7 linked regions of the Homo sapiens genome follow. The protein of the gene in region 3 interacts with the protein of the main gene of each other region in a pairwise test. Each region holds a gene or a part of one and is shown on either strand. Other genes may lie near its edges.

Region 1 (3,971 bases), on a different chromosome or scaffold from region 3:
ACATTAGATACTTAGTCAAAATCGCAGGGACAGAGAGTAGAAGGGTGGTTGTCAGGGGCTGGGCAGAGAGGGGAATGGGGAATAGGTACAGAGTTTCAGTTTTACAAGGTGAAAGGAGTTATGGAGATGAATGGTGATGGTTACACAACATTATGAATGTATTAATTACCACTGAACTGTACATTTAAAAATAGTTATGATGGTAAATTTTTGTTATGTTGCCTCTACTCTCCACCACACACAACTATACCTGACCTCATCACCCTCTCCAATTACTGGCCCATTTTTCTGCTCCTTTGCACAGTAAACTTTCTCCAGAGTAGCCTCAGCTTGTCTCCACTTCCCTATTACTATTCTCTCTTCAACTCACTCCAGTCTGGGGTCTCTCCCCACCATGTCCCTGAGCCAGTGACATCCATGCTGCTAAACCCAATGGTCATTTCTCTGGCTTCATCTTATTTGACCTTTCAGTAGCCATTCTCCAGCACTCTATGCTCATTTCTTTCTCGCCGCCTTCTTTTTTTTTTTTTGAAACAGGGTCTTGCCCAAGCTAGAGTACAGAGTGCAGTAGGGTGAACACGGCTCACTGCAGCCTCAACCTTCTGGGCTCAAGCAATCCTCTCGCCTCAGCCTCCTGAGTAGCTGGGACCACTGGTGCGTGCCACCATGCCCATCCAATTTTTAAACTTTTTTGTAGAGACAGGGTCTCACTCTGTTGCCCAGGCTGGTCTCGAACTCCCAGGCTCGAGCAATCCTCCTGCCTCAGCCTCCCAAAGTGCTGGGATTACAGACATGAGCCACCACACCCAACCTGCTCATTTCCACTTAGATGTTAAGACGGTGATTTCCCATACAGGGACATGCAATGAAGCACTGGAAATTGCCTGCCACATATATCCTGATGCTCAGAATCCCCCACATTGCAGTCACTCCTTAAGCCCCAGCCAAGTATTATTCTGAAGATACAACTGCGCTGGGATGCTAGGCTGCCTGTTGAGACTGGTGGTGCACCCATAGGCATGTGATTTCACATTTTATTTATTTATTTAATTTATTTTGAGATGGAGTCTTGCTCTGGACTTCACGTTTTAGAGCATCCATTTTCTCCCCTCTGCATGGGGCAGCATAGCACTACCTACCTCAAAGGGTTGCTCAGAGGACCGCATGGTAAGTGCATATGAAGCACTGGTTTGGCCTGGTGCGGTGGCTCATGCCTATAATACCAGCACTTTGGGAGGGCGAGGCAGGCAGATCACCTGAGGTCAGGAGTTCGAGACCAGCCTGGCCAACATGGTGAAACACCGTCTCTACTAAAAATACAGAAATTCGCTGGGTATGGTGGCAGGCATCTGTAATCCCAGTTAATAGGGAGGCTGAGGAAGGAGAATCATTGGAACCCAGGAGGTGGAGGTTGTAGTGAGGCAAGATCACGCCACTGCACTCCAGCCTGGGCAACAAGAGCGAGACTCGTGTCTCAAAATAAAAATAAATAAATAAACAAACAAATAAATAAATAAGCACTGGTTTGTCGGGTCTGCATGCTGCCCTTGCTCCTGTTAAAAATTGCTCCCATTTACCAAGGCTAATGGGGGAGGTGGTGGCACTGCCCTTGAGGCGAGGCGTGGTTCAGCCTCCTTGCACACTCAAATGGCCCTGAGGGAGTCCATGCTGTTACCCCTATTTACAGATGAGAAAACTAGGGCCCAAAGAAGTCCATTAAATGTATATTAATTAAAAAAAAAAATCTAAGGTTTGTTTGGCACGCTGCTGATGTTACAGTCAGAGGCCTGGCTTGGGAGCGGGGAGCATGTGGGCTCAGACTCTAGCGCCTCCTCTCACCAGCCATGGAACCCCAGAACTCTGTTTCCTCATGTGGAAAAACAGGGATGAGTATTAGAAGCAGTAACTGATAAAACACATGTGAAAATCTCTATTATAGGTCAGACCTTGCTGTCTCCTGCTGTTGATCACGTCCAGAAATAGAATCGCCTTTTGTAATATGTGTCTCTCCACCACACTCTGAATGGCTCTTACTGCTTTTCTGTCTCTAAAACAGCACCAGGCCCAGCTCAGTAGATGCTCTTCACACAAGCTTTTTTTTTTTTTTGAGACAGAGTCCCACTCTGTCGGTCAGGCTGGAGTGCAGTGGTGTAATCTCAGCTCACTGCAACGTCTGCTTTCCTGGTTCAAGTGACTATTGTGCCTCAGCCTCCTGAGTAACTGGGATTATAGGCATGCACCACCACCTCCGGCTAATTTTTGTATTTGTAGTAGAGACGGGGTTTCATCGTGTTGGCCAGGCTGGTCTGGAACTTCTGGCCTCAAGTGATCCACCTCCCTCGGCCTCTCCAAGTGCTGGATTACAGGTGTGTGCCACCGCGGCTGGCCACATAAGTTTTTTTTTTTTTTTTTTAAATCACATTTATGCCATGTCATCTTCTATAACCCATTCAATATTCATGAGGAAATTTCAAGTGTCCCCATTTGAGAGATGTGGGAACTGGGGCTTTGGGGGGTTAAAGTGATTCACTCACAGTCACCAAGTCACTAAGAAGTGAGATACAGGCTTGAACACAGGTCTCCCAATTTCAAATCCTGTGCCATCAGCTACATTTAGGTGTATCTCAGAATGTCAGAGCCTGGAGAAATGTCAGAGATGATGTTGTTGAAACCCCTTCCATTACAGATGAGGGAAACTGAGGCTGCAGAGAACACTTCCCCTGGTAATGCAGAACCAGGGCCAGGACCCAGGTCCCAAGACTGTAGTGGCTTCCTCTCTTACATGGCTTCTGGCACTCAGACCTCAAAATGATACTATTTCAGAACACAGCACGGAACATGTGTGTGTGTGTGTGTGTGTGTGTGTGTGTGTGTGTGTGTGTGTGTGTCTGTGCAGGAGAATCCCTTGAACCTGGGAGGCGGAGGTTGCAGTGAGCCAAGACCAGGAAAACTTCCTCCTCCTCCCTTCAGCAGGGATAATACTATGAGGCCATGTGACAAGGGTCGTGGGGACAGCCATGACATGAGAGCTGGCCCCACCAGACTGCTGTGTAAGCCTCTGCTCCTCTCTGGGCTTCAGGATCTTGATTTGTAAAACTCAGGTAAAAACTTCACACCCGGCTGGGCTCGGTGGCTCACACCTGTAATCCCAGCACTTTGGGAAGCTGAGGTGGGTGGATCACCTGAGATCAGGAGTTCGAGACCAGCCTGGCCAACATGGTGAAACCCTGTCTCTACTGAAAATACAAAAATTAGCCGGGCATGGTGGCATGTACCTGTACTCCTAGCTACTCGGGAGGCTGAGGCAGGAGAATTGCTTGAACTTGGGAGGCGGAGGTTGCAGTGAGCCAAGATTGTGCCACTGCACTCCAGCCTGGGTGATAGAGTGAGACTCTGTCTTAAAAAAAAAAAAACAACTTCACACCCTTGTTTATGCTTTGGGATCTGCCACCTCCACCCAAGGTCTCAGAGGACAACTGAAGCGAAGGTGGTTCCAGCTTCGGAGGGCTATGCGCATGCTGACACTTGAGTGAGGAGGCACAGCAGGAGGAGGATGGACCAGAGGGTGGGGCAGAGGTCTGGGATGGGAGATAGGCACTGGGGAGGTGTCCCAAGGGACAGATGGCTAGCACAGGGAGAAGCTCTGGTCCCTGATGAGGCCTGACAGACACAGGAGAGATCATTAGAGAAGAGTTGGGAGGCTGGGCTCTGGTCCCAGCTCTGCCATCAACTTGCTGTGTGACCTTAGGGAAGCCACTTGCCCTCTCTGGGCCTGTGTTCATTCATGTGTTAAAAGAAGGGTTGAGTTAGTTGGGGACAGCAAACTTCTATAAAGAGCTGGAGCCTGTAATCCCAGCACTTTGGGAAGCCAAGGCAGGTGGATCACCTGAGGTCAAGGGTTCAAGACCAGGCTGGCCAACATGGGGAAACCCTGTCTCTACTAAAAATACAAAAAAAAAAAAAATTAGCTG
Region 2 (3,971 bases), on a different chromosome or scaffold from region 3:
AAAAATCAAATGACAGCCAAAGCACAATCTCCTTATCAAAGAGGTACACTGTAAAAAGGGTTTAAAACTGATTTTAAAAACTTCCCTGATCCTAAAAATAATGGGACCTATACAGGGTCCCATTACTCAACTGATACCTGAGGCTCATTCTCAACATTTGTACATGAAAGAGACTTACACTAATGGCATAAAAAAAAAGTCTGAAGATTTCTAACTCAGACATATCAGAGGTGACACCATCTATACAAACGAAAGAATAAATATAACCAGCAACTGTGTAAAGACACAAAAAAGAAAAGACCCACCATATTTTAATAGTGCTTTATCTTTCATTCTGCCTGTTTACTTCCTTGAATCTGGGTATGCAAAATATTACCTAGTCTCATCCCCTAAGTTAAATAAACAACTCCAAAAGATCTTGCTTTATCAAACATCTTTTGAAAGCATGGGAAGGAAATGTCATGACAGTTTAATTACTTGGGACCTGCTTCCTAGACTTTTAAATCATTTTTAGGGGTTTGGTCCTTCCAAGTCTTCCCTTGAAAATTAAAGTAACATTTAACATAACTCTGTTATAAAAGAACTATGAAAAGCAGTTTAACTAGTTTTATAACTCTTATAAAGAAAACTAGTTTTATAACTCTTATATTTTAAGTTATAAAAATATAAAAGTTTGATAACTCTTATATTAAGGCCAAGATGTATACTGTCAATCTGCTTCAAATAGGGCAAAATCAGTACATTAAAAAAAGATATAGTAATACACAGGATGATGAAGGTTTGTTTTTTGTGGTTTTTTTGTTTGTTTGTTTTTGTTTTTGAGACAGAGTCTCGCTCTGTCGCCCAAGCTGGAGTGCAGTGGTACGATCTTGGCTCACTACAACCTCCACCTGCTGGGTTCAAGAGATTCTCCTGCCTCAGCCTCCCAAAGTAGCTGGGATTACAGGCGTGCACCACCACGCCCGGCTGATTTTTGTATTTTTATGGAGATGGGGTTTCACAGTGTTGGTCAGGCTGGTCTCGAACTCCTGACCTCATGACCCTCCCACCTCAGCCTCCCAAAGTGCTAGGATTACAGGCGTGAGCCACCACGCCCAGCCAAAGGTTTTTGTTTTTCAATTAATCATCCTATGTACAAAGAAAACACTCCTAAAGAAGATTAGCATGTTTTTGACCAGGCACAGTGGCTCACGCCTGTAATCCCAGCACTTTGGGAGGCAGAGGCGGGCAGATCACGAGGTCAAGAGATCAAGACCATCCTGGCCAACATGGTGAAACCTGGTCTCTACTAAAAATATAAAAATTACCTGGGCGTGGTGGCGGGTGCCTGTAATCCCAGCTACTTGGGAGGCTGAGGCAGAAGAATTGCTTGAACCCAGGAGGCAGAGGTTGCAGTGAGCTGAGATTGTGTCACTGCACTCCAGCCTGGGCAAAAGAGCGAGACTCTGTGTCAAAAAATAAATAAATAAAAACAAAAATTCACCATCTTTTATCTATACTTCCAGAGTTTGAAAACCTAAAATTTTTATTAACACATTTAGTGGCAAAACCTGACCTGAAACCAGGTCTATTTTCAATCTGTCTTTCTCCACTTGCCATGACAATATCTTTCCCTCAGAAATGTTTCATGATAGAGTGCTAACTCTATCTACCCTAACTCTATCTATAAACCCCACTGGGGGTGTCATATCCAGTATGTGCATCATATTACCGTCTTAAATTGGAATTGCTTTAACTTCCAAAGCACATCTGGCCCCCAGGGTTTTACAGAAAAGATACGGGACCTGTATCACTGAAGGAAAATAAATGTCTGAATCCACAAAATCAGTTATTGAAGACTGATGTAAACACTTAACTTTCTGTTATATCTAGTTTTCCCGTATAGTTAACAGTGAAAATCTGAAACAAGTCAATTTCTCTGTACTTTTTGTTTAAAGTGTTGAGTGATGGCATTCATCATCATTTTTGGAAACTGTTCTCTCAAAAAAGCTTTCAGCAAAATATAATCAGTCTTGGACTGAATCAAAGTAACTGTACCTTACATATGAGGTCTGTTTTCTATGGATTCAGACACCACCTGCATGGAAACTGTTGCCAAATTCTCTTTAGACCAAGCATTTCCATGCTCTGCCTCTAAGGTATCTTGTTTGCTGAGGAACCAAAAAGAAACTAAGTAACCTGGAATCTATAATTCTCTCAAAGCTGTTTTCTTAATCTAAATCTACCTAAATGATGATTATACTTAATTACAAACACTCTAGTTCCAAATAAAAAATTAAATATAGGCCAGGCATGGTGGCTCACGCCTATAATCCCAGCACCTTGGGAGGCCGAGGTGGGTGGATCACCTGAGGTCAGGAGTTGGAGACCAGCCTGGCCAACACGGTGAAACCCCGTCTCTACTAAAAATACAAAATTAGCCGGGTGTGGTGGTGCACACCTGTAATCCCAGCTACTTGGGAGGCTGGGTCAAGAGCATCGCTTGAACCTGGGAGGCGGAGGTTGCAGTGAGCCAAGCTCCGTCTCAAAAAAAAAAGAAAGACATTAACAACCCTAGATGCCAGAAGACAATAGGGCAAAATAATACTTTCCAAGTTCTGGAAAAATGTTAACCTAGTATTCTATACCTAGCCCAAAGCTATTTTCAGACATACAGGACTCAGAAAGTTTACCTCCTGCCATCCTTTCTGAATAAATTACTTAAGGATGTTCTTCAACAAAATATGAAGAAACCAAGGAAAAGGAAAATACACCCAGGATGGAGTGCGGTGGTGTGATCTCAGCTCACTGCAACCTCCGCCTCCCCGGTTCAAGCAATGCCTCCTGCCTCAGCCTCCACAGTAACTGGGATTGCAGGCGTCCACTACCACACGCGGCTAATTTGTGTATTTTTAGTAGAGACGGGGTCTCGCCATGTTGGACAGGCTAGTCTTGAACTCCTGACTTCAGGTGATCCACCTGCCTAGGCCTCTCAAAGTGCTTTACAGGTGTGAGCCACCGTGCCTGGCCAGGAAGCTGTCTTTAATAAGTTACAGGACATCAGTACACAGCCTACCTTAAGCAAAGAGAACTCTAGGGAAGAAAGCAGATTCATGTGATAGATATTATGATTAAATATCTTCAAAAAGTCTGCAAACACACTGAGGGCAAATTTTTCTTAACAAGAAAAATGAAAAGCTATTGAGGAATAAATCCATATAAAAAAAGTCCTAATTCAAATAAGGAGCAAACTAAAATGTGGCATGTTTTGAGCAAATGATGGTATGTTGGGGGGAAAAGAAGAGTCATCTAATCCTGGCAATAGGAATATACATACAGTAGCACAGACTTAAGAAAAATATAATCCCAGAACACTACTAACCCTCAGAGAATAGGTACTGTCAACTCCTCAGACAGGCCTTCCTTAATCACACTAACCCTTCACTCCGCTTTATTTTTATTCCCTTAGCATCTGCTATTACCTAAATTGTATCACATGCATTATTTCATTGATTCTAATACACATTATTCTCATTTTTTAACCCCGCTGAAACCAGCATGCATTTTAGAATCGATACATTTACAACTACTGTCAGCCAGGTGGCAGCCTTGTTACTGTGTGAAAAACCTCCTGTGGCTAACTCCTGGAAAGATTACAAAAGCGCCAGCATCAAAATGCTTCACATCAGACAAAAGACAATCTTTCTTTACTTGCTGGGATATAGCTCCCCCACTACACTCTCAGCAACAAAGAACAGTAATTCATTTTTTTAAAAAAATCTTCATATCCTCTAACATAGAACGGTGACTGGTACGCAACAGATATTTGATCTGTGTTAATTTTTTTTTTTAGACGGAGTCTCACTCTGTCACCCAGGCTGGAGTGCAGTGGACCATCTGGCTCACTGCAGCCTCTGCCTCCTGGATATCAAGCGATTCTCCTGCCTCAGCCTCCCCAGTAGCTGGGATTACAGACGCCCGCCACCACGCCC
Region 3 (3,971 bases):
GACTGATCTTTGGCCATTTAAATGATATTCAAGACTAACCTATAGATTTATTTTTCAAGGACTTTATTAATAAAGAAAAATTTAAATAATTTTACAGTGAGCACTTTTTTTTTTTTTTTTTTTTGAGACAGAGTCTTGCCCTGTTACCCAGATTGGAGTGCAGTGGCATGGTCTCGGCTCACAGCAACCTCTGCCTCCCAGGTTTAAGTGATTCTCCTGCCTCAGCCTCCCGGGTAGCGGGATTACAGGTGCCTGCCACCATGCCCAGCCAATTTTTTTTTTTGTATTTTTAGTAGAGACAGGGTTTCAGCATGCTGGCCAGGCTGATCTCGAACTTCTGGCCTCAAGTAACCCACCCGCCTTGGACCCTCAAAGTGCTGGGATTACAGGTGTGAGCCACCATGCCTGGCCTAGAGTGAGCACTTAGATGTCTACTACCCAAACCTTACAATTAACTTTTTACTATACTTGTTTAATCACATATCTATGTATATATTTGCTTTTAAGTTCAAGAAATAACTAAGAGTATTAAAAAACAGAAGAGTACATTCTGTAATTCTTGATACTTGATTTGGAATCTGACTACAGCTCAAACATCACTGTGTTATAAAGGATCAAGTAAAAGACTGGAAGCTTAGCACACTGGTTCATGATTCTAGCCTTCCTCAACTTTGCCAGGCTGAGCTTATATGCATTTGAAATGTCTTCATCTGTAAAATAAAATAACGTACATCTTTAAAGGGGTTCAATATCAACATATACAACTTAGCTACTTAACAAGGAATCACACCCAACAAAAAAATCCCAGAGAGAAGTAGCGAGAATCTAGGTCTCTTACCTTGCATAATCAACGGGAGTTTTCCCACTAGAATCCTGTGTGCCTGGGTCTGCTCCATATACTGCCAATAATTCAGCCTGTAAAATCTGCCCTGCTTTGGAGGCAACATGGAGTGGGGTGTTTCCTTTTTCCTAAGAATCATTAATAAAAAGTAGGCAAAAGAGCACATTAAATAAAGGCTACATGAACACAACTCACTTAGTTTCAATATCTGAAGCAATTCATGTTTTCTTACAGGATGAAAGAAGTTGGCTTGTGCTCCTAAAGATAACAGTCTCAAACAGGTTTCAAGATTCCCTGTTCTCACGCTCGAATGGAGTTGCTGAAAAACGCAGAAACAAAAAAGGAATCGTGGTTAGAGGTGTAAAGAATGATGTCCTAGGGCAGCTGATAGACCATTTTAATATATGTTACATCAGTAACGCATAATCTTTATTTGTCTCGGTAAAGTGCATGGACCAGTCTCTCCTTTGCCAGTCACAACTGTCCCTGGGCTGTAAGGTGGAGTGAGGCCACTTTACTGATAAGGAAACTAGGGCTGTGAAGGCTGACTTGCCCAAATGCATGACTTATCTAAGAAGTGGCACAACCAGAACCTGAGTGAGAGGCAGGACTGTGTGAAGAGGTGACTATGCGTGGCTCTGACATACGACAGACCTGAATTTCAAACTATACCCACTTCAAGCTGTGTGGCCTGGAGAAAGGGCTTTAAGCAATCTGAACCTCACTTTCCTCATCTCAAAAATGTCAACAATGGCCAGATGCAGTGGCTCATGCCTGTAATCCCAGCACTTTGGGGGGCTGAGGTTGGAGGATCACTTGAGCCCAGGGGTTTGAGACCAGCCTGGGCCACATAGCAAGACTCTGGCTCTACAAAAAATACAAAAATTAGTTGGGTGTGGTGGCATGCGCACCTGTAGTCCCAGCTACTAAGGAGGCTGAGGTGGGAAGATCACCTGAGCCTGGGCAGTGGAGGCTGCAGTGAGCTGTGATCATGCCACTGCACTCCAGCCTTGGTGACAGAGCGAGACCCTGTCTCAAAAAAAATAAAAAATAAAAAAAATTTTAAAAGGTGGCATTTTTCTTTTTAGAAAGGGTCTCGCTTGCTCTGTCATCCAGGCTGGAGTGCAGTGGAGTGATCATGGCTCACTGCAGCCTCAGTATCCTGGGCTCAAGCAATCCTTCCACCTCAGCCTCCCAAACAGCTGGGACTACAGGCGCCGGCCACCATGCCCTGCTAACTTTTTATTTTTCAATACAGATGAGGTCTCACTATGTTGCCCAGGCTGATCTCGAACTTACGAGCTGAAGTGATCCTCCCACCTCGGCCTCCCAAAGTGTTGGGATTACAGGCATGAGCTACCGTGCCTGGCCCTATTCACAGGGTTATTATAAGGATTTAGTGATATAATAAAGTGCTCAAAGAATACAAATGCTATAATAACAGTTATTATTATTAGTTGTTACTGTAATTAGGGCTTTAGGACTTCAAATTCTACACTGTGTAAGCTACAGGATCCTGCCTTATACAATACCCTCTCTACCACATTATTCTTGGCCTGTATAATATGCTTTAATAAAGTCTTTCAGGGTAGGAAAAGGCCCGTGATATACCGAATTCTGTACTACTGCAGAAAAGCTCTTATACAGTCAGAAGATGAGCTGCCTTCCTTCAAATCTAACCTAGAATTGTCCAAGATGCAGTAACCCTTATCACAGGAATGAAGAAATCTACTCTAACATCTAAGTTTAATTTTTTAAATAGTTTTTTTGTTTTTTAAACACAGGGTCTCGTTATGTTGCCCAGGCAGGACTGAACTCCTTGGCTCAAGCAACCCTTCCACCTCAGCCTCCCAAGTAGCTAGTATTACAGGGATGTGCCACTGTGCCTAATTTTTTAAAACTCTGGCAAGGAAAAAAAAACAAAAAACAAAAAACCCAACACATACCAAGTCTTATTAATCAATGGAAGTAGCTAGTATATGCATTTCTATGCAAAATTTCAAATTCTGAATTCTTCAGCCAGATTCTGCTGGGGATTAAAAAAGGGGGGGGAAAAAAGGCCAGATGTGGTGGCTCACGCCTGTAATCCCAGCACTTTGGGAGGCCAAGGCAGGCAGACTGCTTAAGCCCAAGAATTTGAGACCAGTATGGACAACATGGTGAAACCCCATCTCTCCAAAAAGTCAAAAACTGGCCAGGCGCGGTGGCTCATGCCTGTAATCCCAGTACTTTGGGAGGCCGAGGCAGGCAGATCACTTGAGGTCAGGAGTTCAAGACCAGCCTGGCCAACATGGTGAAACCCTGTCTCTACTAAAAATACAAAAAAAATTAGCCGGGCATGGTGGTGGGCACCTGTAATCCAAGCTACTCAGGAGGCTGAGGCGGGTGAATCGCTTAAACCCAGGAGGTGGAAGTTGCAGTGAGCCGAGATCGTGCCACTGCACTCCAGCCTGGGTAACAGAGACTCTATCTAAAAAAAACAAAAACAAAACACACACACACACACACTAGCCAGGCTTGGTGGCACATGCCTGAGATCTCAGCCACTTGAGAGGCTGAGGTGGGAGAATCATTTGAGACTAGGGAGGTTGAGGGTGCAGTCAGCCATGATTGTGCCACGACACTCCAGCCTGGGCAACAGAGTGAGACTCTGTCGTTTAGGCTGGAGTGCCGTGGCATGATCTCAGCTCACTGCAACCTTCGTCTCCCCAGTTCAAGAGATTCACAGCTGAATTCTACCAGACATACAAAGAAGAACATCCTACTAAAATTATTCCAAACAATCAAAGAGGAGAGACTCCTCCTTAACTCATTCTGTGAAGCCAACATCAGCCTGATACCAAAATCTGGCAAAGACACAACAAAAAAGGAAAACTTCAGGCCAAAATCCATGATGAACACAGATTTTTTAAAAAACTCTTAACAAAATATTAGCAAACCAAATCCAGTAGCACATCAAAAGTTAATCCACCATGGCTGGGCGCAGTGGCTCAGGCCTGTAGTCCCGGCACTTTGGGAAGCTGAAACAGGCGGATCATGAGGTTAGGAGTTCGAGACCAGCCTGGCCAACGTGGTGAAACCCCGTCTCTACTAAAGATACAAAAAATGGCCGGGCGTGGTGGCTTACGCC
Region 4 (4,600 bases), on a different chromosome or scaffold from region 3:
GTCTCCCATGCATTAATGCTCTTACCTCCAACTTCTCCTTTACTCACTATTCCTTTACTCACTATTCAGATCAAATGTCACCTCCTTGGTGAAGCATTGCCTGACTTCATCATGAAATGCCAGTGTTTTCTGTTCTTCTAGTACTTGGCTAATACCTTAATTGTAGCATTGTTTTGTATCCTAACTATCTATTTGCTTTTGCCTCCCGAAATACATTGTGAATTCCTTGAAGACAAGGAAGGTGTTTATTCAACTTTCCATCTCTAACGTGGTATTGTAATTGGTCTATATAACCCCGTGACTCCTTTGTTAAAAAAAAACATTTGCAAGGTCAGTTTTATCACGCAGATTATCATCTGCTTTTTTGCAGATGCAGAGGAAGAGAAAAGAGTTCCTCCTTATTTCGCAGAGATTTCTTTCACTGCCTTTAGAAAGACCTAATTTGAGCACCAGAATTTAACTAGCTTAAAACTTACACAGAGGAGGCCGGGTGCAGTGGCTCACGCCTGTAATCCCAGCACTTTGGGAGGCCAAGGCAGGCAGATCACGAGGTCAGGAAGTCGAGACCATCCTGGCTAACACGGTGAAACCCTGTCTCTACTAAAAAGACAAAAAATTAGCTGGGCGTGGTGGCGGGCGCCTGTAGTCCCAGCTACTCGGGAGGCTGAGGCAGGAGAATGGCCTGTGAACCCGGGAGACGGAGCTTGCAGTGAGCAGAGATTGCACCACCGCACTCCAGTCTGGGCAACAAAGCGAGACTCCGTTTCAAAAAAAAAAAAAAAACTTACACGGAGGAAGGAATAAGACAGAATAAACAATAATAAATCTAAAAGGAATGAAAGTCAATTTAATTTTATCTTTAGAATGAGAATGACTGTCTCACTGAGGACCAAATGAAATAATGTGTGTGAAATGCTTTGTCAGTTTTGAAGAGAGATAATACAGTGACTAGACTTCCCTAACAAACCATCAGGATGCATCCTAACTCTTCTCCAACTACGGCATTTGCAGTTCACCATAACTACTCCTGGTGGTCCCTCAGCAGAAACCAGCTGGCCACAGAGTATGGGAATGGAGGCTAGAACTTGCGAGCTGAGAAGACACAAGTTGGAGTTCCAGCAATACCACAGTCTAAGTCTGTGATCTTGAAGAAGCTATATCAGCTTCTTGGATATCAGTTCCCTCCATCTCTAAAATAATGACATTAAACCTAGATGAACAAATTCTGCAATTCTGTAACTGCTCACTGAAAAGCTGAGACTACTCTAGCCAACTTTCATATTTCAAGGACTTCACCTTTTAAATTCCTGCAGAAATGGAACCAACTCAAGAACTTTAGTCAGCATGGCGGGTCCCTTGTGAAAAATAATATCAGCACTTAGCAATGCAGTGCAATTTGAGAGTCACTGGAAAAATCTTTAGTCCTCAAATTTCTCCTTCCATGAGAAGTTACTTTTTAAGTTAATATTTATTTTGTCTAACTTCCCCCTTTTAAAATGCAGATACCTTGTGAAAGGATAGTATTTTTCTCCAGTCTCGGGCTGAGTGTCTTCTTCCTTATACCTGGGCTCTCAATTATATCACTTACAAACTCCAGAAAGAACTGGCTCCCACACTTTCCCCACCCTTCCTAGAATCTCTTTTTTTTTTCTTTTTTTTTTTTTTTTGAGGTGGAGTTTCACTCTTGTTGCCCAGACTAGAGTGCAATGGCACGATCTCAGCTCACCCCAACCTCTGCCTCCCTGGTTCAAATGATCCTCCTGCCTCAGCCTCCCAAGTAGCTGGGATTACAGACATGTGCCACCATGCCTGGCTAATTTTGTAATTTTAGTAGAGACAGGGGTTCTCCATGTTGGTCAGGCTGGTCTCGAACTCCCGACCTCAGGTGATCCGCCAGCCTCGGCCTCCCAAAGTGCTGGGATTACAGGAGTGAGCCACCGTACCTGGCCAAATCTCTTTATTTTTCTATCAGCCCCTTTATTCTGTGCTCATACTACATTCAAACATATCTCTAAGCTTAATGCCAACCTTCTTTGATGCTTCTGCCTCTTCTGTAGTCTACTTTTTATTCTTTTGGTGTTACCATATTTAGAGATAGAATAGGAATCAGCAAAGAGACAAGTGGTTGAAGAATTAAAATGAGGACCAGAATGGTACTGTATCCTGGCCAACCAAGGAAGAAGAGAATTTCAAGAAGGAAGGGTTATCAGCATCGTCAAATTCAGAAAGTAAAGAAGATGAGGACGACTAAGACTGCTAGCTTCAGAAACCAACTGGAGGCTGGCCAGTGTCCTCCTTATTACCAAATCTAAACATCTTTGCTGTCAGTGGTGGAGGAGATTTGGAGTGGTTAATCAAATCTCAAAATAGAAATGGCCCCAGTTTTCAGAATGTAGACTAAGAAAAGCAAGCTTCCTGTGAACCCTTTGAAAAGTCTGATTGACCCCTTGCCTCAACTCTGATGTGGGAAGGTGGTGAAAGATCAACAAACCAACACATCTGTCTTTTAGATACAGTAACAAGAGCAACACCTTACACCTCTTCTTCTTTAGCTTATTTTATTAGAATGCAATATTATTCCTCCATTTATAATTTTTAAAACTTGAGGTTCAGATAGGGTTTAAAGTACGTCTCAAGTCTTACATCCCCCTAATACAGTGCTCCTGAAAAGATTTCTGCTGAAAACACCTCCAAGCTTTTGTCTCTGTTTTATCCTTCTAATCCTGCACTCCTTAAAGGGCCAAACCACCAGCCTTTCCTCCAAGCTTCCCCAAGGGTTTAGTAGTCCACCGACCTTTGGTAGTTGAGGAAGAGCAGAAGACTCTATGATGATATCTGGGATAGTTTCTCAAAGAAGAAAACTGCCTTGATCTATGTAGTCCTGGTTCCTCCCCAGATCAGAGTTTATCATAATACCCTGAAGTTGACTGGTAATTGCTCCACCAAAGAGTCCCTGAATTTCAGCCATGTGGTTGGCTGGTCAAGGACGGTTGATGGAAATAGATGGGCAGAAACTTTTGACGGGCCCAATGAATGATTAACAGCAGAAATAAAGCAGCACTGTTTACCTAAGCTCCTTCCTCTTTGCTAGTCCTCATTCTTCGTAACATGTCGCAATCGTTTATTTTCTCCTCTGCCAACCATTTCCCCTAAGTGGAAAGGTAATTTGAATTTGAAGCCAGAATTCTTTTTTCTTTTCATAAACACATAAGGGTTATGGCAAGACACAGTCCAGCTAGCCTGGAAACCTTGGATACTGCGAGGTTCAGAGAGCCTCCGCAAAAATGATCCACTTTCCATGACACTAGGTCCAGTATGCTTTCCTGGAGTTTGAAAACTGATATTCTTGCCCAGAGCTCGTCTCTATCCCACCCCAAGGAATTACAAAAGGTGGGGAATTTATCAAACATGCATTGGGTTTCCACTATGTGCTGAGTTATCTAGAACGTATTTGGAGTTCAGCAAATGTTAACTGCTACTACATGTCAGGCACCAGAGGGCCTCCAAAAATTGATCTATCCAGTGCGCTCAGAAGAACGCAATGAAGGACCGGCCATGTTTCCTCTCGCATAGATCTAAAAAGACCACAAGCACTTACATAGTCCAATTAAGCTACTAATCCTCAAGGTTAAGATTTGTGTGCTCAGAAGATTGCTATTAAAAGGCAATTCTTTCTGAGAACTTCACTTTTTCTGTAATAAATACTGAAAGTCCCAGAAGAGTTTCAGAAAAGGAACTAAACTACAACAGGTTGAGTTAATCAAGGAAGTTTCTACAGAAGATGTGAGATTTGGATAAAAGGTAGAAATTATTAGATAAAAGTGGTAAGGATATTAGATGTAAAGAAACCATGCGCTAGGTCACCAAGGTGAGACACTGATTTGACCAGAATGAAGATAGAGGAGGATTCCAGATTGCACAGTCTTGAGACTAAATTGGAAGAAATATCACCTTTAAAGCTGCTATTTCTTTAAAGTACCGTTTTCCAATGTATTGAAGTCCTTTCGTTTACTTTCCACAGTGACTCTTGCAGATTTTTCTCTCCAGGTCACCAAATTGTCACATTCCCTCTCAGCAGATGCTCTTACCTCCTACTTTACTAAAAATCATTCTACCTTAGCTTCATCAATGTCAAATTTTCCCTCCTATTCACTCCTCATTCCGAGGAGAATTGTTTCTTCTTTTCCTGCCTCATTTTCAATGCATCTCTCATCCTGAAATGTCCCTTCAATTTTGCCAATACCTCAAATTCCACCTTTCTTCTTTAGTGTGATGCTGAACTTCTCAAAGGTGTGACTTGTTCTACCTGCCTGTTCTTTCTCATTCATCACTCCACCTGTTGCTTTCCCATCTGGCTTCTACCACTCTTCTACTGACATGTCTCTCTGAGGCACGCCCTTAGGTCCAAGTCCAAAATATCTTTAATTCATTTCTTAGGATCTGTCTGCAGCCTTTGTCACTGCTGATCATTTCCTTTCTGAAACTCTCTTCTCCTTTGGCTTCCATGACACTAAACTTACCTGATTCCCTTAACTTAACTAATTTCTCTTTCTTAGTTACTGTTACCTTCTCTTCCTCCTTCTCATTCCTAAATATAGAT
Region 5 (4,491 bases), on a different chromosome or scaffold from region 3:
CGCTGGTGGTGACGGTGATGTCATCGATGTAGGTGGTGGGTGTCGTGTACAGAAGTACAGACCGCTGCAGTCCAGCGTAGTTGAAAAAGTCAAAATATGTGTTCTGGACAAAGTAACCCTTGGGATACCTAGGATGGGAGGACTGTGGTTTGCTGGGCCCTTGCTCTGGGTCCCCTGACCTCAGCTCACAGGCCTCCCTGGCCTCCCCAGATCCAAGGCCTCCACTCTGTGAAGGCCACCCAGTCCCTACCAGGAAGACCACAGGGTGGGGCGGGAAGGTGGGTGTGTGCAATGGAGGCAGGATGGTACCCACTTGGAGGTGTCAGTCAGGTATTGGATGGTCCCTGGTGGCAGGGTGGTGGGGGTGAGTGTGTTGTTGATGGCGATAGTGATTCGGAGCCGGGAGGGCAGGGGCCCCACCTGGACCAGGTTGCTGATGTCGGCCTCGAAGGGGAGGTAGCCCCCCTCATGCTCTAGCGTGTCGACCCCATTCACCCACTGCAGACACAGGAGATACGGGGAGGGGGCTGCAGGTCAGGGCATGAGGAGGCGCCCTACTATCGGGCACTCCCTCACATAACCTGCAGCATGGGGCTCCGGGGCCTTCCAGCCAGACGGGAAGAATGACATCCCAATGGGGTAGATCAGGCTACCTATCCCCCTATACAGGGCACAGCCCCCAGGGCAGGGCAGGGCAGGACCCCCCACCATCCCACCCCAGCATACATGCCGTGGGTGGCAGCTGGAGGTCCCATGCTGTTCAGCAGCCGTGCCCCCCCACCCGCCCTGCCTGCTCCTGGCCGCACTGACCACGATGGCATAGGAATGGGCACTGCCAATCCTCAGCACCACTCTTGTGCGCAGGTCCTGGGTCCATCGCTCCGGCAGGATCACCTCCCGTTCGTACCACACCCAGCCGACAAAATGCCGCAGACGCCAGTCCTGGCTGATGTCATTGAAGCTGGAGGGAACTGGCATGTCCACGGTGGGGCCTGACTGTGGAGAGAAGAGCCGGGCTCAGCTCCTAGGCCCCCAAAAGGGTCCAGGACCAGTGTGCTGCACGGCTGTGCCCCCAGGCCTAGCACAAGCCCTGACACATAGCGGGGATTCTTGGCAGAAAGGACAGATAACTTGCTGATGACAGGTCAACTGCCAGGGCGATCTGTGCACCTGGGCCAGTGGGGCCAGGAGTTCCTCCTCAGAGTGGATGGGGCACAATATCTCCTGAGACAGGAGCAAGCCCAGGGCCACATCCCAGCCAGAGGCAAGAAGGTTCAGACCTGTGACTAAGAGGCAGATGGCCACTGCCTGTCACAGGGAGGAAGGCTGGTTGGAGGAATGGGGGGAGCTTTGCTTAGGACACTGTGAGTGGGGTGCACACTGGCACCCAGCCCCCTCCTCTTTCCCTCCTGTACTGAATGCTGCAAAGTCAGAATAAGAGGATGTAGACCAGGCAAAAGCCGCCCAGACCTCACCCAGTTCCACTTCTCTGCAGATCACATCCAAGTCAGGAGGGGAACAGGGGTGGCGTCCTGGGCCTGATGTCATGTCCTGTCCTCTATGTGAACCTTGAAAACCAAGGGACTTCCTGCCTCGGCAGAGCTGACCTCAGGACATCTAAACTGTCACCTTCTCCCGATCCCCGGGCCCAGCTCTGTGCAGTGCATGCCGCTGTGGCCAGAGTGTGTGGGTGGCTCATGCCAGTAATCAGCGCTTTGGGAGGTCAACGTGGGAGGATGGCTTGAGGCCAGGAGTTCGAGACCACCCTGGGTAAATAGTGACACCCTGTATCTTTTTTTTTTTTTTAAGTTTTTTTGCCTTTTTTTTTTTTTTGGAGACGTAGTCTCACTATGTCGCCCAAGTTGGAGTGCAGTGGCATCCTGATCTCAGCTCACTGCAACCTCTACTCCCGGGTTCAAGCAATTCTCCTGACTCAGCCTCCCAAGTAGCTGGGATTACAGGCATGAACCACCACACTTGGCTAATTTTTATATTTTTAGTAGAGATGAGGTTTCACCCTGTTATGTTGGCCAGCCTGGTCTCAAACTCCTGGCCTCAGGCGATTCGCCCGCCTCCACCTCCCAAAGTGCTGGGATTACAGGTGTGAGCCACCGAGCCCAGATAATTTTTTTTTTTTCAATTAGCCAGGCGTGTTGGCACCCCCTAAATTGCAAGGCTGGGGCGGGAGAATCGCTTGAGCTCAGAAGTTAGGCTGGCGCCACTCCGCCCCAGCCTGGGAAACAGGTGCAAACCCAGTCTCAAAAAAATTTTTAAAAATTAAAAATAAATATTGAAAGGAAGGATACTGCACAGACTCAGCCTTTACCTCGGGAAAGGGCTCGGCAAGAGCCTTTTCTCCTCCTGCCTAATCCGCCCCGGCCCTCCAGGGTGCTCCTGTTCCCCCGTCCCCCAAGCCGGCGCCCCCAAGCCCGTTGACCTTTAACCTCCTGCGGGCCCCAGCTCGGAGACGCCCAGGGGAAGAAGTCTGCGGGGGGCCCGGGCTCCCCTACTCCCACCGCCGGGCTTTCGGGCGCCTCCCGGCCCTGCCCCGAGATCGCACCTCCCACAGCGGCCGCCGGTACCACTGCTCCTCGAAGCCCCGGCGTCGGTTGTCAGAGAAGTCGGCGCGGAAGCTCCAGAGGCCGTCCAGCTCCTTGCACTCCCGCGACGGGCTCTCCTGGGGGTACAGCATCCCGCCCTGCAGCCCCAGCGCGCAGCCCCACAACAACGGCCCGAGCGCCGCCCAGGCAACCGCCGACCCCCGGGCCATGCTTCCCGGTCCCCCGCTCGGCCACCGTCTGCGGCGCTAAGAAAAGCGCGGGAGGTGCCCGTAGGGCGGGTCGCGTGACGCGCCGGTGTCGTGATGCGCCTGAAGCCATCCGCGCCATCTTGGTTGAGGACGAGTGCCAGGCCTGGAGGGGCGGGGCCGGGCGCTGCCCGGTAGGGCTTGTGGCTGGAACCCCAGGCTAGGCCTTTGGGGAAACGGGACCCTCACCCTCAGCCCCAGCCGATAAGGGCGAGGTCTGCTCCCCACCCCGACCCAGGCTGGACGATCCAGGGCCGCAGGCCAGAACAGAACCCCTGAGATCGGTGGGATCCCCCTGTTTCTTCAAGGAGCACCTCCACTTGCTTTTCCCAGCAGGAATTCAAGGAGGCCCCAGCGGCGCCTCTTCCATGCCTGTCTGATGCAGCCTCTTGCAGGGATGCACGTCCTTGGGATGCGGCCATAGCCTTGACCCTGGGCTTCTGGAGCCCTGACCTTAACCCAGGGGCCAAGAGCTCCCTCTTGGTGTTGCAGGCACATAAAGATGCAGGGAGAGAGGCCAGGTGCACTTTGGGAACCCGAGGGGGGCAGATCACTTGAGGCCAGGAGTTCGAGACCAGCCTGGCCAACGATAGTGAAACCCCGTCCCTATTTTGTAAACATACAAAAAAAAAAAAAAGAATTAGCGGGGCGTGATGGTGCGTGCCTGTAATCCCAGCTACTCAGGAAGCTGAGGTAGGAGAATCGCTTGAACCCGGGAGGCAAAGGCTGCAGTAAGCCGAGATCGCACCACTGCACTCCAGCCTGGGCAACAGAGCGAGACTCTGTCTCAAAAAAAAAAAAAAAATTGCAGGGAAAGGGTGCCCTGCGGGACCCCAGTTTACTCCAGTAGGGAAGGCACCGTGTGGGAGAGGTAGAGGAGGAGATCTGGAGACAGCAAAGGAGACATAGATTTATGGAGGGGACTTTCATACAGGGACGGTGCAGTGGCCATTGCTGGACATGAGAACCACTACCATTTGTAAAAAGCATGCAGCTTACATAACATTTTCAACTAGCATCCTCGACCTGTTACTGGTGGAGTTCCGGGTGGTGAATCCCTACACATCAGCAACAACCTCAATTCTTGCCTCCTCAGAAGAAAGAATTGCACTGAGGGGCATAAGGCAGAAAGCCAGAGGGAGGTAAGCTGCAGAGCAGTAGTAAAAGCTTGTTAAAAAGCAGGCCAGTGCTGAGCGTAGTGGCTCACACCTGTAATCCCAGCACTTTGGGAGGCGGAGGTGGGGGGATCACGAGGTCAGGGGTTTGAGACCAGCCTGGCCAATATGATGAAACCCCATCTCTACTAAAAAATTAGCTGGGCATGGTGGCATGCGCCCGTAGTCCCAGCTACTCGGGAGGCTGAGGCAGGAGAATCGATTGAACGCGGGAGGCAGAGGTTGCAGTCAGCCGAGATCGCACCACAGCACTACAGCCTGGCGAGAGAGCAAGACTCAGTCTAAAAAAAAAAGCAGGCCAGGCACAGAGGTTCAGGCCTGTAACTCCAAACTCCAGCACTTTGGGAGGCCAAGGCGGGAGGATCACTTGATATCAGGAGTTTGAGACCAACCTGGCCAACGTGGAGAAACCCCATCTCTACTAAAAATACAAAAATTAGCCAGGCGTGGTGGCAGGCACCTGTAATCCCTACTATTTGGGAGGCTGAGGCAGGAGAAATGCTTTAACCC
Region 6 (3,971 bases), on a different chromosome or scaffold from region 3:
TGTAACACTCGCCTTGGCAATCAGTAAGTGCTCAATCACTCTTCATTTCCTCCCTTGCCTGCCAACCCTTTTACTTTACCTGTTTGGCAGCAAACAGCTTGCCCTGGTATTTATTAATGACCGTGTAACCACCTGGTACTTGGCGATCCTCATACCAGGCAATGGGTATCAAGAAATCACGAGGATTGGCCAAGCCATTGGCCCCTAGAAAACAGTAACCCAAAAGTCTTTTAGAAACTTCCAAAACATAGGAAAGATGCCCATGGTTGCATGAAGAGAAAGGCTTTCTTTCATGTCAAGAGCTACTCCACAAATTGCTTTCATTGCTCAAAGATTCACTGCATTTCCAGTCTGGTACCTTTTAGGAAGACCCAAGGAATCTGGTCAGAAAAAAATTCACAAAAACCAGCATTACTTTCTAAGGTTGTGGAGTGACTATGGTTAACAAAACAATCTTATATGCATTATCTTATCACTACAGGTGAGGGGAAGGGAAGAGAGAAAGAGAACTGAAAAGAGGAAAAGGGAAGATCTGATAGAACTCCAGAACTTTTTCTTTTGAAGGAACCCTTGAATATTCTAGAAGTCATTGACAGTCCTTGATCTCAGATAGAAAGGGTTACACGCTGTTGCCTAAGGCATGCCTCTGCTCCCTAGACAGAACTCAGATTCCAGTCTGAAAACGGTTCTCCAGCCTGAAAAACCCTGTCTGCCACTCAGGAAGAAGTATTTAGGACCTGCCTGCTTACCTTTGCTTAGGAGTGAGTGTTTCCTCCAGAGAAAGGAAATAAATCAAAAGACCAAACATGAAAAACTTAAGTGCAAAAACAGTTTAACTCTGAGAGGAGCGAGCTGAGGAGTGTTTTATCATTTCCAGCTCCTGGACTTAAAAAAATAAGTCCCCGGCTGGTTAGCAAATTATAGATATTTTCCAGAGGGTACATGTTCCACGGAACCTGGAGGCTATGCTGACTATAGAGCAGCAGGAAGCCAGAGCAGAGTGGGAAGAGTGGGAGGTGAACAGGATGACAGACGGCCCACCACGGCTCCAGCTGCCTCTTGCTGCCTCCCACCTTCCTCTGCATATTTGGATTCCTCAGAGGAGCTGACCAGAAGGCACACACTGGCCTGTCCCTGTTTGCTCTAAAAAGCTGTTGACAAGGAAGGGAAGAATTGGGAGATGTGACCAAAGAGTAAACCAAGGGCCAATTTTCCCAGCCATTTCTTTCAATCCAAGAGACAGTTTGAGAACAACCCCTCCTAACATTTTCACTTCCTCCAGCTTGCCAGAAGAATGGGGGCTGTGGAGACCTTGGTTCACTTTGGAATGTTTTAATCTGCCTCCTGGGGTGTGGTTTCTAGATCTCTCATAGCACTGAGTGATGTGTTTTTTTGACTGCTAAGTGTGTGGATTTGGTGGGGTGTACACAGAGGTTCATAGACTATGTGTCACCCAGTCCATCCCTCCTTTCCATAGGAATACAGCCCAGGGCATTTTTATGGCCTTCCCATTTTATACAATATGCAAAACAAAAAGCAATCCAAACCAATCCATTATAAATCTCACTGACTTAACAAAAATATCTTCCTCCTAATCACAAAGCTTATTCTCACTTATATGCTTTTGCAAAGCTGTTCCCTTTCCTCTTTACTCTCCTCAACTTTTCATAAAGAATTAGTCAAATTCTCATCTCTTCTGTGGAGCTGTTTCTGGTGACCCAAGCCCACAGTAACCCAAACTTCTATATTCTTTCCTGTACACACTATGCAACCAGAAATCTATTACATGCCGTCTTTATCTCCAATGTCTGTATACTATTCTAGAGAGATTTATAATGGATTGGTTTGGGTTGCTTTCTGTTTTGCATATATTTTCTGGGAAGACACTTGGTCTAGAGAAGAATTTGTCTAGAGAGAAAAGTGGAAGTTTGAGTGAGACAGCGAAGGGAGAAGGATGTTTAACTTTCATGCAATTATCTGAGTCCTACATCTCAAGCGAGGCTTAGAGGCTTGTAATGAAGATTTACCAATTGGTCCAAGGTCAGGTAACTCAAAGTGGACACCATAGACCTCCAAGATGTAGCCCCTGGTCTCCTCAAAGACATCTATGCTGAACCGCATTCCTCTCTGGAATGGAAAGCAGACACTGGTGTGCCCTCTGAAATCACAGCTGTAGTTATAAAGAAGCTGCCCAGAGCCATAGCCCATCCCACATGCAAAAGTAAAGCTCTTGTTTGTTGAGCTGCTTGGGAGGTGACCAGAGCAAACATGAAAAACTGAATTTTTTTAAAAAGAAATTTTTAAAATTCAGTTTAAAAAGAAAAACTGAATTCCTAATCACACATGTGACCCAAGCCAATTCTAGTCTACCCTCTCATTGGGTCCAGAGATAATGGTAAGCCTGATTTAGCCACACTAAAAAAAAAAAAAGTCCACCTTCACTGCCTCTACTGCCATTAGTGGGAACAGGGCCTTATCCAGAGTATATGTAAATATTTAGGAAAGTGCAATGACAAGTGGTCTTTCCTTTAGAATTATGTGCTATATTAAAAGAAAGCAGGCACCCAAGCTTGCTTACTCTTCAGCACATGGAACCTTCTGCATAACTCAGATTCCCTCCTCGTTGCCCAGACATGACAGAGAAATTTTAGAGTTGGAAATAGCAGCAGCTGAAACATCTGACTGCTCCCAAATTAGTGAGAGGCAGGGAAGAGAAGGGGACACATCACCAACCTGAATGACGCAGATCTCATTGGGCTGTACAAGCATCTTGCCAAACTCGGTGTAAATGAGAAGGTTCCCTTTCTGCGGAACTGACAAAAAAAGACAGGGCAGTGGTGAGCAATTCTTTTGGTGTGATAACCATTTCATGAACAGGAAAGGCTTAAGGCTGCATTTGCTTTTCCATTCCAAATGCAAAGAGCTTTATTGAGTCTCTTGGGGAAAAAGATAAATTCTGACAACTTAGATTAGCTATTTTCCTATCTAGAAGAATGTGAATAAAACAATGACTCTGCTTTTTTGGTCACCAGGCAAGGAACTTGTATATGCACAATTTTGTGACATGGTCAAAAAGGGGTAGCAGAAATAGGATGGAAAATCACCCATTTCTGATAGTTCCAGTGAAAGGCTGACATTTGCTTGTGTGACATATACACGAAAATGTTGATTCCAAAATATTGATACTAAAAAACCATCAAGTATAATAGGCAGACCAGAACAATCTCTGATAGACTTTACATTTTAGATGGTCTCATGAAAATTTGAATTTAAATTGCAGTTACTAATGATAAATGGGCTTTTACTGAGAGAGTTTCAAGGCAAATACAGTTACCGTAATAAGTTAATCCCATTAGTATTAGTCTTCATTTCTTTTCAGCTGCCCAGGTCTCCCACATCAGAAAGGTCCAGAAGAGATGGGCAAAGACAGAGAGACAAGGAAATAGAGTAGGGGCTTTGAGGTACACTAGAAATCTTTTCCAGACCACCTGTGGCCTCTAGACCTCAGTCTCTGGATTGCACTAAATGAAATAAGACAGATTGGAGAATGAAGGAAAATAATGTGTATAAAATTAGAAAGCAGCTTGCGGTTAGGGGTCAATTAACAGTGAGGGGGTCTGAAGTCTTCAGAACTCACCAATCAAGAAGTCCCCATCTGAATTGTAAAAGCATCTGAAACATATAGAGTAATTCTTGTGATTTTCAGTTTTAACATTGTCTAGACAAATTACGTCATAACACAAATCATTGTTTAGTGCCTATGTAGCAAGCTCAGAGCTGGGTATAAAATGGGGAGCAAAATGACCCAGGCTCTGCCCTTGTGGAACTTAGAGTCTAGTGGGGAGTCAGAGAGCAATCAAATAATTACAGAACAATATCTTTGCAGACTGTAATGACCCTGTGAAAATCAAGTTTGAGGGAATGAAAGAATAGCGACTTGGTTAGTTTGAAGAATCAGCAAAGGCTTCTTC
Region 7 (3,971 bases), on a different chromosome or scaffold from region 3:
AATACTACACAAACACATTAGATCTGATAAATCAGGTTAGCTGTCAGATGACAGAAAGAACAAGGAGAGGCTGAGACAAGAAAAAGGATGAATCATTTCAAAGCTCTGTTAATCAAAGAAACACTTGCATGGGGGGCGGTTACAAGGAAGACTTTTTTCTGTGTGTATATCACCTTCCCCAAAATAGAGCTTATTGCCCTTATTTTTAAATTTTACATCTTTTCTATTTGTATGCAAATCCTTTTCTCTTGACTATCACCTGCAAAGCACATGGATCTCCAATCAAAATGTCAAACAAACTTTTTGCAGTATTTTTTCTCTCCCTGTTCACCCTAACACCCAAACTGGACTTTCCTCCTGCCATCCTTGCTGTGGGAAGAGCAGCTCTGCCACAGAGGCTTGGAAAGGACAGACTGGTGTCGCTGATGAGCACAAGGTCATCCCCAGGCATCCTTCCTTTTCCAACTGCCATTTACCTCTGCGTCAACTGCACTTCCTCTCATCTAGCCTAGGTATCAACAGCTGCATCCCTGCCCCATGCTGGAGCCAAGAGGAGGGCTGTGCTCTTCCTAAGGTGGAAAGAAATGCTTGTGGAGTCTGTTAAGAACAAGATATAACTCCCTTGATATTCACCAAACTAAACTAATTTTGTAATTCTATTTCAGTCAACATTTTTAGATTAAATAACGATTTGTATCTGTCTTGGGCTAAAAGAATTTAAATACTTTTAGGTCTTGTTGTAAAATGTCCAGCTGGAACATAACAAATAAGACAAAACAAATGGGAAAAATAAGATAAATTATATAATCCAGGACAAGGCATTATATTAATAGGCACAAATAAATATATCTCTCCATATAGCTTAGATTTAATTTAGAAATAAAAGTATAGTGGTAGCACACACTGGAACCATAACCCATGGAAGCTATAGGCATGATTAAATAATAATAACCGGTTGACACAGCACTTTATTAGCATCACATTTCATAAACAAGATATCTATATGAATATATTTACCACATAAGAAAATGTACTGTTACGTTACCATAATATAAATTAAATCTCTTAAAAACATTTCCCAAGTGCTTCCATGATATTCCAGTTCAGAATTTAAAGGAAGCCATGGAATGACTTTATCATTGATATTTTTTAAACTCCTTTATTTCTCAAGATATGTATTAAGCTATCATGTTTCACCTGCAATTATTATTGATGCATATCATATTTGCATTTTAACATTAATTTTCAGTTTCACTAGGCAATATGAAGCTTTTGATCAACACTGGTGGATGTCCAAATCAGCAAGGATGCAGAAAAATACTGATGAGAATTTGAACCCAAATGTATTATTGATCGGATACACTTACTCTATTCCTGTAAACCCCTCTTTAATTAATGTGAAAGTCTATATAGAGTTTTTCATCATTAAATATTTTGTTGCATCACTTCGTATATAACCTACACAAATGCTTTAGTAATTCTTATACAATGCATATCTTAACATAGCAGATTCCTCCCAGAAAAAGATATTAGAAGAATAAACATCCAGGTATAATCAAAACAGGTTTTAACTACTCCAAAAGAGTCTCCTTTAATATCTGAATTATCTGACATTCTCTTTAACATGCAAAATTCTAAGGAAACTGATGACTTAAGGTTAGGAGGAAAGAATTTTCAGTAAAGAATTTCAAAGGAACACTGCAGCGTGAAGTATAAAGTGGTTAAGTGCTCTACTTTAATAAAGAAGTTATTTCGGGGAGGAGGATTCAACTTTTACTGCATCTATCTGGAGTCCAGATTCTGGACAAAGAAGTGTTTCATTACGGTAATTATCCAGATAGTTCAGACAAATCTTTTATGAGGCAGGGAGAGTGTAAGGTTGGCATGGTTTCCTGCTTGGATTATTTAGATGATCTGTCTTTGTTGATAAAATTATTTGAAGAAATTGTGCAAGCCTACACTTGACTTCTTTTAGAAAATCATCTTTGTATGGGCCTCTAATCTACTTGGGTCAACCTGGTTATGAAATTTCAAATAGGATATCATTAACAAAGAATATTTCAAATCAATCTGGAAATTAGTGATTCAAAGGGGAAAAATCAGATGGTCTGATTTAAGTAGCCCCTGAATCATTAAATTGTCCCCTTCACTACATTCAAGAATTTGTTTCTGCTAATTAGCAACTTTTTCTTCAGAGATATTGGAGATATTTCTGCTCCCTATCAGGTTAAGAAAACCTTTGATATTTATTTTGAAGAACTCACTTGACATAAGTTAATACCTAAATTAACTAAGATTGCGTTATCAGGTTTTTAAATTTCCTGTCATAATATACTTCTCAAATCATTTAAGATTTCATTTAAGATTCTCCCATCCCATCAAAAATTCCACACACTTTTCACCTGCAAAATGAACACAGAACATTTTCTGAGACATGCCTAAAATATTAATTTCTACTTGTTTAAAAAGTAACAACTTATCAGATAGGTAAATAAGACAGAGTGTGAAATAATCTTAAGAAAATACACTTTTTTCTTTTTGCAGAAAATTGAACTCTCTAAATGTCCTTTGAGAATGCACAGGCAATAAGTCTGAGAAATTCCTTATGTATATGGTTCCTTTCCAAGTTACACAGGTACTTAATTAAAATCCTATAATGATACATCATGCACAATCTATTTTCATATTATAACATCAGTCACATTTTATAATTTCTTTTGTTAATCTGAAACCTAAAACTTCTTATATTAACACTGCAAATTCAAGACAATCCCTAAAATGATATAAGACATTCATGAAAAGAGGCCTGTTTGAGTTTTAAACAAATAAAGAGGAAGTCTGGCAACTTACAGAATAAGCCAGCTTAGGTTTTAAGATAGCATGTGCTGCTTATAGAGGAATGATGCTAGGAAATGAATAAAGTGAGAACAAAGATGCATGTTATGTATGCATGACTTTTTTTTCCCACAAGGTGGTGATTAAACTAAATAGAATTCTGCATAATGGACACATAAAATATCAATAAGTGCCAAGCACAGATAACCCCTATTAAAAATAAAGCAAATGAACATAGGCATAGATGACATTTTAATTACCAAAGAACTTCAAAAGCATCCAAGGAAAGTATTGGGTGTGTGTGTGTGTGTTTGGGAGGTGGGGGGACGTTAATGTTGAAGTCTACAGAATAAATGACACATACGATCTCATTTTCATGGAAACAATAACTACCCAAACACAAAGCCAATGAGCAAAAACCATTTGCCAACCAACCTATTCCTGTGCAACTCAGTCTACAGAAGTAGTCTGTTTAAAGATAATTTTAAAAGGTCAAGTTTTAAGAAGCCAGATATAGTGCTTACATTGAATTCCCAACAACTTTCCTCACACATCAAGCCACAGTCCTTAGCTTCACCTATTTTACTATTACATATACATGTCCATGTTTTAACCCATGGACAAGTTAATGTGAATACTCTCGTTTTCCTCCCTCAACACACACAAAAAATTTCATTTTGGAAATACTCAGAAGTTCTTGCAAGAAATTCCCTGTAGAACTGACTTCTCACATCTTGCATCAGAATAGAAAAGCACAGTTACCTTCTCATGTACTTGAGATTTTCTTTCTCCATCAAATTCATATCTAGGACATTTGGCACATGTCTGGGACAATGACAGGCTCATTCTACTTTATGAGATTATTTAACATATGACTTGAAAGAGTTTATGTACATACCTATTCTTTCTGGGCAAGGAGAAAGCATGCTTAAAAAGATAAGCTTTAACAACAGTAACACTTTCAAACTGACTTTGGAATTCTTGGCAGTTACACACCACTCATTGCTATCCAAAGCATACACCACACACACACAAACACACACACACACACACACACACACACACACACACACACACGACAGTTCTCTCTCTCTCTCTCTCTCTCTGCCAAGCACAGACCTGGGAGATAGGCATAA

The links.
Region 1: the proteins of GIT2 (region 3) and E2F2 interact in a two-hybrid assay, tested with the Homo sapiens proteins (one large-scale study listed by BioGRID and IntAct).
Region 2: the proteins of GIT2 (region 3) and LMNB1 interact in a two-hybrid assay, tested with the Homo sapiens proteins (one large-scale study listed by BioGRID and IntAct).
Region 4: the proteins of GIT2 (region 3) and C4BPA interact in a two-hybrid assay, tested with the Homo sapiens proteins (one large-scale study listed by BioGRID and IntAct).
Region 5: the proteins of GIT2 (region 3) and GUSB interact in a two-hybrid assay, tested with the Homo sapiens proteins (one large-scale study listed by BioGRID and IntAct).
Region 6: the proteins of GIT2 (region 3) and HGD interact in a two-hybrid assay, tested with the Homo sapiens proteins (one large-scale study listed by BioGRID and IntAct).
Region 7: the proteins of GIT2 (region 3) and PROX1 interact in a two-hybrid assay, tested with the Homo sapiens proteins (one large-scale study listed by BioGRID and IntAct).

The regions. Positions count from the first base shown.
Region 1 is NC_000001.11:23,510,724-23,514,694, forward strand, and holds part of E2F2 (transcription factor E2F2), read right to left. Parts: intron 1-3,971. UniProt on the Homo sapiens protein: Transcription activator that binds DNA cooperatively with DP proteins through the E2 recognition site, 5'-TTTC[CG]CGC-3' found in the promoter region of a number of genes whose products are involved in cell cycle regulation or in DNA replication.
Region 2 is NC_000005.10:126,780,049-126,784,019, reverse strand, and holds part of LMNB1 (lamin-B1), read right to left. Parts: intron 1-3,971. UniProt on the Homo sapiens protein: Lamins are intermediate filament proteins that assemble into a filamentous meshwork, and which constitute the major components of the nuclear lamina, a fibrous layer on the nucleoplasmic side of the inner nuclear membrane.
Region 3 is NC_000012.12:109,982,535-109,986,505, forward strand, and holds part of GIT2 (ARF GTPase-activating protein GIT2), read right to left. Parts: intron 1,161-3,971; coding exon 1,074-1,160; intron 970-1,073; coding exon 839-969; intron 1-838. UniProt on the Homo sapiens protein: GTPase-activating protein for ADP ribosylation factor family members, including ARF1.
Region 4 is NC_000001.11:207,102,625-207,107,224, reverse strand, and holds the start of C4BPA (C4b-binding protein alpha chain precursor), read right to left. Parts: upstream 2,993-4,600; 5' UTR 2,795-2,992; intron 1-2,794. UniProt on the Homo sapiens protein: Controls the classical pathway of complement activation. It binds as a cofactor to C3b/C4b inactivator (C3bINA), which then hydrolyzes the complement fragment C4b.
Region 5 is NC_000007.14:65,979,414-65,983,904, forward strand, and holds the start of GUSB (beta-glucuronidase isoform 1 precursor), read right to left. Parts: upstream 2,801-4,491; 5' UTR 2,771-2,800; coding exon 2,561-2,770; intron 997-2,560; coding exon 811-996; intron 499-810; coding exon 314-498; intron 129-313; coding exon 1-128. UniProt on the Homo sapiens protein: Plays an important role in the degradation of dermatan and keratan sulfates.
Region 6 is NC_000003.12:120,644,240-120,648,210, forward strand, and holds part of HGD (homogentisate 1,2-dioxygenase), read right to left. Parts: intron 3,673-3,971; coding exon 3,638-3,672; intron 2,814-3,637; coding exon 2,734-2,813; intron 2,128-2,733; coding exon 2,028-2,127; intron 381-2,027; coding exon of another isoform or gene 328-380; exon of another isoform or gene 205-327; coding exon 80-204; intron 1-79. UniProt on the Homo sapiens protein: Catalyzes the conversion of homogentisate to maleylacetoacetate.
Region 7 is NC_000001.11:213,990,601-213,994,571, reverse strand, and holds part of PROX1 (prospero homeobox protein 1), read right to left. Parts: exon of another isoform or gene 3,598-3,971; intron 1-3,597. UniProt on the Homo sapiens protein: Transcription factor involved in developmental processes such as cell fate determination, gene transcriptional regulation and progenitor cell regulation in a number of organs.